Homo sapiens: one gene and its partners. Changing the gene in region 2 together with the main gene of any one other region gives a genetic interaction. Each region holds a gene or a part of one and is shown on either strand. Other genes may lie near its edges. The genes, in order: SAP30L, TRPC6 and DOLPP1.

Region 1 (3,748 bases), on a different chromosome or scaffold from region 2:
CAGCTATTCAGGAGGCTGAGGCAGGAGAATCGCTTCAACCCGGGAGGCGGAGGTTGCAGTGAGTCGAGATCTTGCCACTGCACTCCAGCCTGGGTGACAGAGTGAGACTCCGTCTCAAAAAAAAAAAAAAAAAAAAAAAAGAAAAAGAAAAAAAAAAGAAAAGAAAAAGGACAGGGGAGATTTTTTATTTATTAGAGACTTAATGAAGACTTATGTATAGGGCTTGGAAGTAAATTAGATAATATCTTTAAGAAATTAACCAGCCTCTTAGGTGCTGTGTGTACCTGACACCCTCACTTCCTATCTCTGGGCCTGTTTCAACCCTAAAATCAGAGGGGAAACGTGCACTCCCTTTCAGTTTAACAAGCAGTCTCTGATTTCCTCCAACTGTGGAGAAATTCTGATTCTAGAAGAGAATGGATGTTAACCACCTAAGCTCTTAGCTAGTCTACCTGAATATTAAATATCCCCTTAACTCATTTCCAATTCCTAATCATGAAGCAATCACTTAAGGCTTGTAGCAACAGATGTCAAACTAAAAAGTTCTTAATTGGTTGACAATAGGCACAGCTTCAGAATTGTTAACTAGAAGTGGTGAAGTCACACGGGAGGAGTTTCCTATAATAAGCCACAAAGAGCAGGGCAATCCGATTTAAATTTAAATATCCACCCCCTTATTTCAAAAGAAACTACCACTAAGAAAATTGATTTCTTTTCTTCCCCCCTCCAGTCACATCGACTGCAAGAGCCATTTCTCAAGACCTGGCCTTGGCCTTATTTCTGCCACATCCTAGAAAAACCCATTCCCACAGCTGCCTGCGAAGCAGCTAGCTCGGTGACCCTCTGCTGATACCGAGGATGCGGGAGCCAGGGAAGTAACTGCCACCTTTCTCTGTCTGAAGGAATAACAGGGTTCCTAGAAGGAGAGAGAAGTTGGAAAAGAGCCGGGTATCTTCATCACTCCCCGCTCCGATTCTTGCTCCTTCAAGGGCCAACAAAACTAACCCACCTCTCCCTGCTCTAAAGTCTAAACCAATAAAACAAGTTGGAAACTGCTGTCCAATCTTTCCAGGCAGCAGGAGTCCTGAAGCCCCCGCCCCCATCCTCCCGGATCTGGGTAGAATCACAGTCAGAGCATGTCAGCGCTGGAGCGGCCTTTGAAATGCGGAGTCCAACTCAGTTCTGCAGAGCCGGGGCGGCGAGGCCCACGGCGGGGAGTGCCCGGGGAGTCCCGACTGGAGCCCAGGGCAGCGGACGGAGAGCTGGGGGCGCCGGGGCCCAGACGCGAGCGGGGGCGGACTCACGCTCTTGTCGATGTCCAGCTTGAGTTTCTTCTGCGAGATGCTCTTCTGGACCCTCTTGCTGAAGGAGGCGTTGCCCGCGGGCCGGACGCAGCGCTCGCCGTCCTCGATGAGGCAGCAGCTCTGGCCGTAGCCCGGGGCGGCGGCAGCTGGGGCGGCGGGGGGCCCTTCGCGGCTGTCCTCCTCCGTGCTGAAGCCGTTCATCTCCCCGCCCCGGGCCGGTCCCTCTGGGGGAGGGTCCCCGGTAGGCCACTCCGCGGCCGCGCTTGCCGCGGGGCAGGTCGCTGAGACCCCCGCAGCCGAGGGTCCCAGAGTCCGTCTCCAGCCCGGGCGCTGCCCTGCCCCGCGTCCGAGAGGCCCGGCTCCCTCGGCCCCCGGCCCTCCGCCTCCGGAAGCCCCCTTCCTCCCGGCTCGAGGCCCCGGGGTCGGCTCCCGCGGCTCGCAGGGCCCCGCCGGGGGTCACCCGGAGGAGCCTTCTGCCGGGGGCCCAGAACCGTAACCCTGCAGCGGGGGTGTCCGGGAGGGCGTCCCAGGAAACAGCCGCTCCCCAAGGACTCCGGGCCTGGGTTGCCAGGGGGTTTCGAAGGCCCCTGCCGGCTCCCGCCTTCTTTCGGCAGCGGGGCAAACTCGCTGCCGGGCAGCTCCCCCGGGGTGGCGCGGCCTCCTCGCGCGGGGCCCGGCCTCGAACCCGCGGCACCCGGGCCCCGCGGCTCGTCCGGCCCACTCCACCCCTGCAGCCACTCGGCTGCGCCCCGAGTCCCGCGGCAGCCCCTGGGCCGCCCGGCCGCCGCCCGCCGAACGCTCCGCACCACAACAGTTCGCTCCCCCCGCCCTTCGCGGGACAGCGGAAGTCCCGCCTTCACGCGACCATTGGTCTCATTTGCTCTCTGGGCGGGGCTGCCGCCGCCGCTGGCGCGTCCCATTGGGCGTCGCCGCCGCCAGTCTCCGGCGCCAGGCTACTTCCTGGACTCTGCTGGGATGGGTTCAAAGTAGAGAAAGTGGAAGAGGAAAGAGTTACCCCAGCGAGAACCGGGAACCGGGCTGCAGACTCTCCGGCCCGGGGGAGGGATGGTGAGCAGGGGCCTGGCTGGACCGAGGGCCAGACTCCAGGAACAGAGGAACACATTCGGGGACAGACAGTAGAGACGCGGACGGGGACGCTGAGGGACAGACTTGGAGGAGGGGCATATGAGGGGACCTAAAGAGGATAGAGGTGCTATCAGGAGAGGGGCGGACTAATAAAATGAAAGGGCCAGGGCCAGAGGACTCGCGGATCCGTGGGAGGAAGGGTGGGTGAAATAGGACGGAAAGCCAGTCATGGCGGGAAAGACAGAGGGACAACCCCATACAGATACGTGGAAAGACATGCGGAGGAGGTGATGGGGGGATCTTGCAAGGCAGTCGCAATATTGGGGGTAGCCGATACCTTCCAGAGTGTGGAGAGTGGGACTGGCTTGGACGGCGCGGAAAGAAAAGGAGAGGGGGAAAGGAGACCCCGAGGGGTTTGGGCGACCCCTCCACTGGGAAGAATGGGAAGTCCGAATGAGGTCTGGAGGGTGGACTAGGTGAGCCGCGGGCAAGAGAAAGGGCTTCAGGGGAGATGAAGTGAAGGCTGGGAGTGGGGCCCAGGGGCCAATCTCGGAATCTAGATGGGGAAGGGCTGCGGTGTCTTGGGCTCTCCCTGGAGCTCCAAGCTGTAGTTCTATTGCTTTGAGTCCCCGGGTCTACCGGCGAAGCGACTGCGCCCTGCCAAGACCCTGCGCTTGGTTTCGGCGCCCAGGGCACCACCTCCCCTCCAGGAGGGGCCGTAGGATATGCTCTGGTCCAGCACTTCAGTCATGCCACTCTCCAACTGCGCAGCATGGGGACTGATGAGGTCCGAAAGGCGATGGGACCAGCCCAGGGTCGTGTAATTATGTAGGGCTGGGCAGCGTTTTATGGGCAGGGAAGAGGGGAGGCTGTGTTAGGTGATAGGTAAGCAAGTGTTAGTACTAGAGGGCATAGAAGGAGCTTCGGGTTTGTGTCCTGTTGTAAAAGGGAAAGCTACCAGTTTCCATGTTTAGAAGCAGGTGGCTGGTGATCTTAAGTTTTGCTCAGTGGCCATAAATGCATTTGTAGCATCTGAACTGGTAATTTCACACGTGGGACAGCCATCGTCGGAAATAGGCCTATCAGAGATAATATGAAGTACAGTGATGTTCATTATGGAATTATTTATAATAGGAAAAATAAAATAGAACCTCAGAGTTCCAAAAGGGAAGTGGTTAAGTAAACTACCTAAAATCTTCAGAAAGAGATTGTGCAGTTAGCATTTGAGGTAGTTTCAACATCAATGTAAACATTTTCTATAGAGAATAATTCACCATTAATTCTTAAATAAAGAGCTGATGAGGAGTTGGAGAAATGCTTTTTTTATGATAAGTAAAAAAATTCAGGATATGAAATTG
Region 2 (3,648 bases):
TGGGAACAGTAGTGAAGCTCCTTTCAAGCCTAAGAAACAAATACGTGTGTGTGTGTGTGTGTGTGTGTGTGTGTGTGTGTATGTGTGTGTGTGTTGAGAAGGGTGGAGAGTACGTAAGGAACAGTGTTGAATCAGATTTGTTTAGCAACATTCTGGAACTGTTACTCAAAACAGTCTACCTCTATGTAATTGCAAACTCAGTTTAATTGTCTAGCACCAAAAGCTTTTGGTCTATTATGGATTCTTTAGATTGTTTTAAAGAAATCCTTCATCACCAATGTCCTTTTGGCACAGAGCACAATCCTGTGGAAAAATATGGGCACTGAAGCTTCTGAGTTGAAAAGTGATTCTGAAGACTCCATCCCCAAATGTGAAGGAACTTAGGAATACCATAACAAATTTGTTTATTTTTTAATTATGTGCATAAGAGTTATATATGATCCAAATCTATATCTAATTGAGTATAAAGAACTGTTTTAAGAGGTATAAAATAAAAATCTAAGATATAATTTAACTGATAACACTTCTTTTTGCTTATTTCTTAAAGATACATAAAATGTCAGAGCAGGTTACAATTGATAGAAGCTTAGACTTCATGCTATATGGTATTCATTGGTTACCCTAAAATGGTGCCTAACATACCAAAGGAACTTAAACAAATGTTTGTTGAAATAAATTAAGAATCTTTCCAGATGGAATACAGTGTCTGGCCCTGAATGCCCCTCCAAGAAAAGGGTTCCTGCAGAAATCCCTCCCCTAGGTTAAGTGTGGGGATTTTCTTACTGCCCAGGATCAGCTTTTTATAGCTGCTTCTGCCACCCTTCAATCTACTCTATACAAAATTCTGTTTCAAGAAGGCTAACTCAGTAATAACAAAAATGATTTTTATCTGTAACAGTTTAGCTCCCTAAAAGAATTTTTAAGTTACCTTTAGAAATTGCCATTTCTAATTCTTATTTTGACTCCTAACTCTCAAGATAATTTTATTAGCGATTCCCATGAAAAGAACTCTTCCTAGTTTTTTTGTTTTTTCTTTTTTTTGTGAAGGTTTTGTGCTACTACAAGTCAGGACAAAATGCTTTTTGTATCACAAACCAAAGCTGGTGCAATGGAAACATGAACTCTGCTTTGAATAGGCAGTCAATCTTAACATGACTATCCACACTGTAATTGATTCCTGGCAACTTATATTTTTAGACGAATACCATGTAAATGCTTTAAAAATTATGCAAATCTTGTGGTTAAATCCCCAGTTTCACACTGTCATGTGAGTCAATGTCTCTAAAACAACCTGCATTATAGCATAGAAGCAGTTTTATCCACATGATGGCAATGAAAAGTAAAAGAAAGCCTTGCCTTTTGCAATCTTTAGTCATGATCAGTTTGTGGATCTTTGGTAACATTAGCAATCGACACAATTTTGTTAACATTCATAGTCTTCCTTTGGTGACAAAGACTGGCAATTTTTCAAAACCTAGTTTCACTCTTTATTGAAATAAGAGATAAAACAAAATCCTTTGCTCTTCCCTTTCTTTCTTCCCATTTGTGCCAACTGCTAGCTGTGTAGCATTTGGCAAGTCACCTACCTTCTTTTTACTGTCATTCTTTTTTCTTATCAGTAAAGTGAGGATTATAAAAATGCATATCTCATAGGTTTGTGATACGGATTAAATGAGTTAATACCTACAAAGCACTTGGAGAAGGGCCTAGCACACAGAAGTCGCTAATAAATCTAGCTATTATTTCTATTCTTGCTGGACATAATCATATAAAATCAACAGAGATGAATGAATAAATAGATTAATGAATTAATGAAAGAAGTGAGATATAAAGCTTGACCTCCAAAGATGGCTAAGATTTCAACAGAAAGAGAAAGTGGGGGTTAAACATACTTATTACTGCTATTTATGCCCTTTTCTTCCAGTCTTCTATCCGTACCCAGGATATAACTTAGATATAATGAGCACAGCACAAGGAATGTTGGTTCAGTAGATCAGAGCCAACGTGTGGCTTTCCAAATTCCTATGAAAAGGGAGAAGAGAAGGAATGGGGGTGAGTGCGCTTTTGAAGAGCATAATCCACCTGTATCCAGCTGTGCCTGGCTGAATACTGAGAGAATAGAGGACTGAGATATGGGATACTGAGAGAATCTGCCAGCCCCATGGTCCACGTGTTCCAGCCCCAAATATATTGGGTTTTGCCCACTTGACAACAACCTACTGGCTGTGTAACTTACTGCACATTGTTTAACATTTCTAAATTTCAGCATTGTTCTTTATAAAACGGATGCTAAAAATAGCTGAGTAGATGCTCTGAAGATCAAATTACATTTGTATGACAACTAGAAAAGAACCTGCTACAGAATAGGTATTCAAAAAATGTTAGTTGCCCCAAATATATATAAATATTTTGGATTAGTCCTCCACAGAAACAGCAACTTACATTAAACTGTATGTAATTCTAGTTAACATCATTTCTCCTCTTTGTCATGGCTGAGAGCTGAATTAGGTGGAGAACAGTTATGCTGCAATCATATAGGTTGTTTGAGTATGTGTAACACTCATTTCTGTATTCTGCTCTAAACAGAGATTCTATAAGAACTGTGATTCAGTCAGTTCCAATGGCTTAAAGCCTCTTGAGCAGCATACCAAATTTTAGATGCCAAAGTTTAATTGAAACTTGGCATATGGATGAACACTTCTGCATGTATTGAAAGCCATCAGAAGATTCCTAAACAAAGAGCAATCACACACATGGTAATTTTATCCAACTGGAACCAATTATATTTGGCATTTTTTATGAAAGAGGGAGAAAAATAAGAATGGACTCAAGAAAATGTTTTCCTTTTATGACTTTTACCCTCTTTAAGATGAATTGCCTTATGAAGTTACTTCTTACAACTCAAGGAGCATAAACTGTCTAGAGAAAAAAAATTATGCAATGTCTTCCTGGAGGCAAACATTTTGTTACAGAATAAATGTGGACTTTTAAGCACATCTGGCAATCATTCCACAACCTACAATGCTGGCACCCTAAAAATGCTTCACGATAATAATATGTTACCAGTAGAGTTGATTACTTCAAGCCAGGGGAGGTTTCAACACAAAACAGGTCATTTCCATGCAGAATACAGAGCTTCAAAGTCATCAGCTATGAGACCCACCATTAATCCAAGTGGTTGGGGGAGACGATTACTCCTAATAGAAGGGGAGCCAGATTTGAAGGTGGTTTTTACACGTGCTTTTCCCCTGGAAGAGCAAGCTTCCACACTGCAATCTTTCACCAAAGTCTAGGTCTTGGCTTTATGGTTATAGATGCCATTTCAAAGGGTATACTAGATTATAGGATTCTTTCTGCGTTCTAGACCACTACATATGTATAAGAAATCATTGTGTCGCACATGTTCTCTTTTATTGATTTCACTTACCATTCAATAAATATGTCTTGTTAAGAAAATCAGCCCTTTAATTTTATTTGGAAATACCTCGTACTGCTGCTGGACTGTCATGTTCTGATGTGACTGCCCCTTTGGGGTCAGAGAGTAAAGCCACACTTCTGTAGGTCAGTGGTGGTATCTTTGCTTAAAGGAGTAGACATATCTAATGTCAATCATCTAGGAAAGAAGGAGAATTTTAAAAAGAAATAAAG
Region 3 (3,562 bases), on a different chromosome or scaffold from region 2:
CCCAGGCTTCCTGTGGAGCCTCAGCTCCCCTCTGAACCCAGAGAAGGGCCGGCCTTCGGCCGGGCGAGGTGGCTCACACCTGTAATCCCAGCACTTTGGAAGGCCGAGGCGGGTGGATCACAAAGTCAGGAGATTGAGACCATCCTGGCTAACACGGTGAAACCCCGTCTCTACTAAAAAATACAAAAAATTAGCCGGGCGTGGTGGCGGGCGCCTGTAGTCCCAGCTACTCGGGAGGCTGAGGCAGGAGAATGGTGTGAACAAGGGAGGCAGAGGTTGCAGTGAGCCGAGATCGCGCCACTGCACTCCAGCCTGGGCGACAGAGCGAGACTCCGTCTCAAAAAAAAAAAAAAAGAAAAAAAAGAAAAGCCAGCCTTCCCACTCCCCTAAGAACCTCACCCAGGATTTGGGGTGAATGAAACAGCATGAGTCAGGAGTCTCCAAAGCTCAGCTCTGTCCTGACTTGCTGCACAACTACAGGCTGGCCTCCTAACTCAATGTGCCTCAGTTTACCCAGGCCTAAGAAAGCATCTGGACTAATCCCTAGGGATGTCCACACACAGGAGCCCTGAGAACCTCAGCTGCCCAGCTCTCTGGTTCTGGGCTGCAGAGGTTAAAAGCATGGGCCCTGGGCCAGACAGCCTGGGTTCACCACCCTGCTCCCCCACCCACTATCTGCAAGATCTCGAGCAAGTGACTTCTCTTCTCCAAGCTTCAGTTTCATCATCTGCAAAATGGGGGTCACAGCAGGATTCAATGAGTTAATGCAAGAGAAGTGCTTAGGCAGGCGCGAGGCTCCCGGAGAGCCCTCCAAACATGGAGGCAGAGGCTGCCTGTGGCTGGCCCAGTGAGCACTGCTGTCCCCTGAACTCACCTGGCTTCTGCCCGGGTTACCGTGTACTCAAACCAGAGTACGTTGGGAATGAGGCTTGTGTCTCGGATTAGGAAGAACTCGGAGACAGGCCTGGAGAGACAGACATCAGAGAGCCAGGGGCACATCAGGGCATGAGTCTGTTACCATGCCAGCCATCCCCACCATTGCCCGGGGCTGGCACGGCACCCGCCCCGACTGCCTAGAGTCTTTGCCTGGCCTGAGACCCCAGAGCCACTGAGAGACCCAGCTATGTCACCTGTGTCACCTCAGGCAGGGGCACTGTCCCACGGCACACACAGCCCAGCAGGACTCAGGCTTCTAAGTCCCTGAGAACCTAGGCGAGGACAGAGGATGGCACTCTGGCTTCCGGGCCTGAGGAAACCCCCTGTGTCTCTGCCACAAACCCTGGGGCACTGGGGCCTTCCCAGGGAGACAGGGGCTGGGGTCAAGACTCCTAGGTCCGCCCACTGATGGCCCCACCCACAGGAGGGGACAGGGCCCACAGTGCCCAGGAAGGCAGGAGGCAGTTACCAGGCTGCTATCCTGGGGAACAGCGGGGTGAGGACCTCCTGGGTGAAGATGAACCAGGCGATGGCCATGAGGCCTCCAGCGATGCCTCCATAGAGCACCTGGCTCCAGGTGTGGTACAGCAGGTAGACCCTGGGCCAAGGCCAGAAGCGAAGTATGTGAGAGCCAGTCAGACACAGGCCCGCACAATCCCCACTGCCCATGTGCCAGCTTCCCAGGGACCTGTGCCCACACATGTGGAGACACAGACAGGACACTGACTCCACGGGGCACAGCCTCAGATCCATTTCCAAGTGGGAGGGCGCTGGACCCCAAACACAGCTCTCCCATCTGTAGCAGTGAAGGGCCAGCTGGGATCTGCCTGCCTCCCATCTAGCCCTTGACCTCTGAATTTGTCTACAGTGGGCTCCTCCGGAACGCTGGGAAGAGATGGCTGATACGTGGAGTTGGTCCCAGAATCTTGGGCTCAGTGCGGACTGGGCTAGAAGAGGCAGCTGGAGCCCTGTCCTTTTAAAACTAGAGGTCTGGGACCCCTTTTCCAGTCCTGCACTACAGGTTCTGGGACTAGGGTCCATGGTGGGGTCCGACAGGGACCAGGAACCAGCAGGACCCCACATGGGCAGGGTGCAGGCAGGGGCTCTCCCTCCTCCATACCTGCTGTAGGAGACTAGGAAGGCCACAGCGAGGAGTCCCAGGGAGAGCACGTGCCTCCACAGCAAGTCCAGGAACCTGGCGTTGTTTGTTTGGTGCATTCTGCGAAAACAGGCCCACCAGATGACCTCAGCCCACAGCCCAGCCCAGGCCTCCCAAACAGTCCCTGGCCCCATCCAAATGCTCCCTGGGTACCTTCTGCCTCCGCTGCAGCCCCTCCCACCCCAGGGGCATCCAAAGGGCTAGCAGTGAGTCCCTAGCAGAACTCGGCCTGAGCAAGTTCAGGGCCATCCTGACCGGGGTGGAAACTCACCTTAAATACAGGAAAAGGAAGGAATAGACGGAGAAGAACCACATAAACTGGGAATGGCTGGAGGGCATCCCGTACTTGGTGCCCACTGCTGTGTGGGGGCCTGGGAGAGAGAGGAGACCAGGGCATCACGGGGGGATGCAGACCTCCCAGTAACGCCCCAACCTGGGGGAACCTCAGGCCCTCGCAGCTGAGGCCCTACCTCCACAGGGCCGTGGCTCCTGGATGACGTTTTTGATCAGCCAGTTGACCCCCTCGTTCAGTGCCAGGCCCCCAAGGAAGGAGATCTGCTGGGGAAGACGCATGGTCAGCTGGGCCTCTGTGCACCTGTTGGCTGCTACCTAGTCCCAAAGACCATGGCCTCTGACTGAACCTCCCAGCCCAACAGGTGAGTAACCTAGAACCAGCCAGGAGGCTCCACGCACCTCAAGACAGGTGGACGCAGGGATGAGAACCCTGGACTGAGGGGCGGACGGGCTTCCCAAAGCAGGGTGGGGGCACTGGGGGTGGGGTGGGGAGGGTGTGGGCAAGACAGACTCACCGTGTGCAGCTCCCGCTTAAATATGATGAGGGTCACGAAACCGACGATGACAAATACAGGGCTGAGGCTCAGGTAGGCAAGGAGGTGGCCAGAGAGATCACCTGGCAAGACAGAGAACAGAATCAGGAGGACAGGGCACAGGCATCAGAAGAGGGACCAGCCCCCTACAAGTAAGGCCTGATCCAGAAAGGAGGTCCCGGCAGGGCCTGGAGAATGGAGGCCAGGCAGCCAGGGACACCTGTTTACCGGCCGATTGTGCCAACTCAGTCACAGCCATACGTGATGCTGTCTACTACTTAGCACTAAAGTGCACACAGCATGCGTTTAAAGCAGGTGCCTTCACTGTTCCCATTCTATAGATGAAGAAACTGAATTCCAGAGCAACTATGTGACTCGCCCAAGGTCACACAGCCAGAAGGAGGTGGGACCAGGACTAAAGTCCAAGTCTCTGACCTGTTCCAGACACTAGACCAATCCCTCCTGCCAAAGCAGGAAGGTGAACCCGGCCTGGTGACTCCAGAGGTGGAGCCTGGGACCTGGGAGGCAGCCCGGCAGGCACATGAGAGCCACACACTGTTGTGCTGGGGCTGCCCTGGCTGAGCCCTGGGCCTCCAGGGAAATCCGACGTTCTCTGGACACCACACAGACTTGGGTCCAC

What was found.
Region 1: changes in TRPC6 (region 2) and SAP30L together harm fitness less than expected from each alone (positive genetic interaction), as found in Homo sapiens cells (one large-scale study listed by BioGRID).
Region 3: changes in TRPC6 (region 2) and DOLPP1 together harm fitness less than expected from each alone (positive genetic interaction), as found in Homo sapiens cells (one large-scale study listed by BioGRID).

Annotation. Positions count from the first base shown.
Region 1 is NC_000005.10:154,444,362-154,448,109, reverse strand, and holds the start of SAP30L (histone deacetylase complex subunit SAP30L), read right to left. Parts: upstream 2,114-3,748; 5' UTR 1,506-2,113; coding exon 1,305-1,505; intron 1-1,304.
Region 2 is NC_000011.10:101,573,878-101,577,525, forward strand, and holds part of TRPC6 (short transient receptor potential channel 6), read right to left. Parts: intron 1-3,648. UniProt on the Homo sapiens protein: Forms a receptor-activated non-selective calcium permeant cation channel. Probably is operated by a phosphatidylinositol second messenger system activated by receptor tyrosine kinases or G-protein coupled receptors.
Region 3 is NC_000009.12:129,084,111-129,087,672, reverse strand, and holds part of DOLPP1 (dolichyldiphosphatase 1), read right to left. Parts: intron 3,006-3,562; coding exon 2,905-3,005; intron 2,651-2,904; coding exon 2,566-2,650; intron 2,467-2,565; coding exon 2,367-2,466; intron 2,156-2,366; coding exon 2,057-2,155; intron 1,535-2,056; coding exon 1,406-1,534; intron 965-1,405; coding exon 875-964; intron 1-874. UniProt on the Homo sapiens protein: Required for efficient N-glycosylation. Necessary for maintaining optimal levels of dolichol-linked oligosaccharides. Hydrolyzes dolichyl pyrophosphate at a very high rate and dolichyl monophosphate at a much lower rate. Does not act on phosphatidate.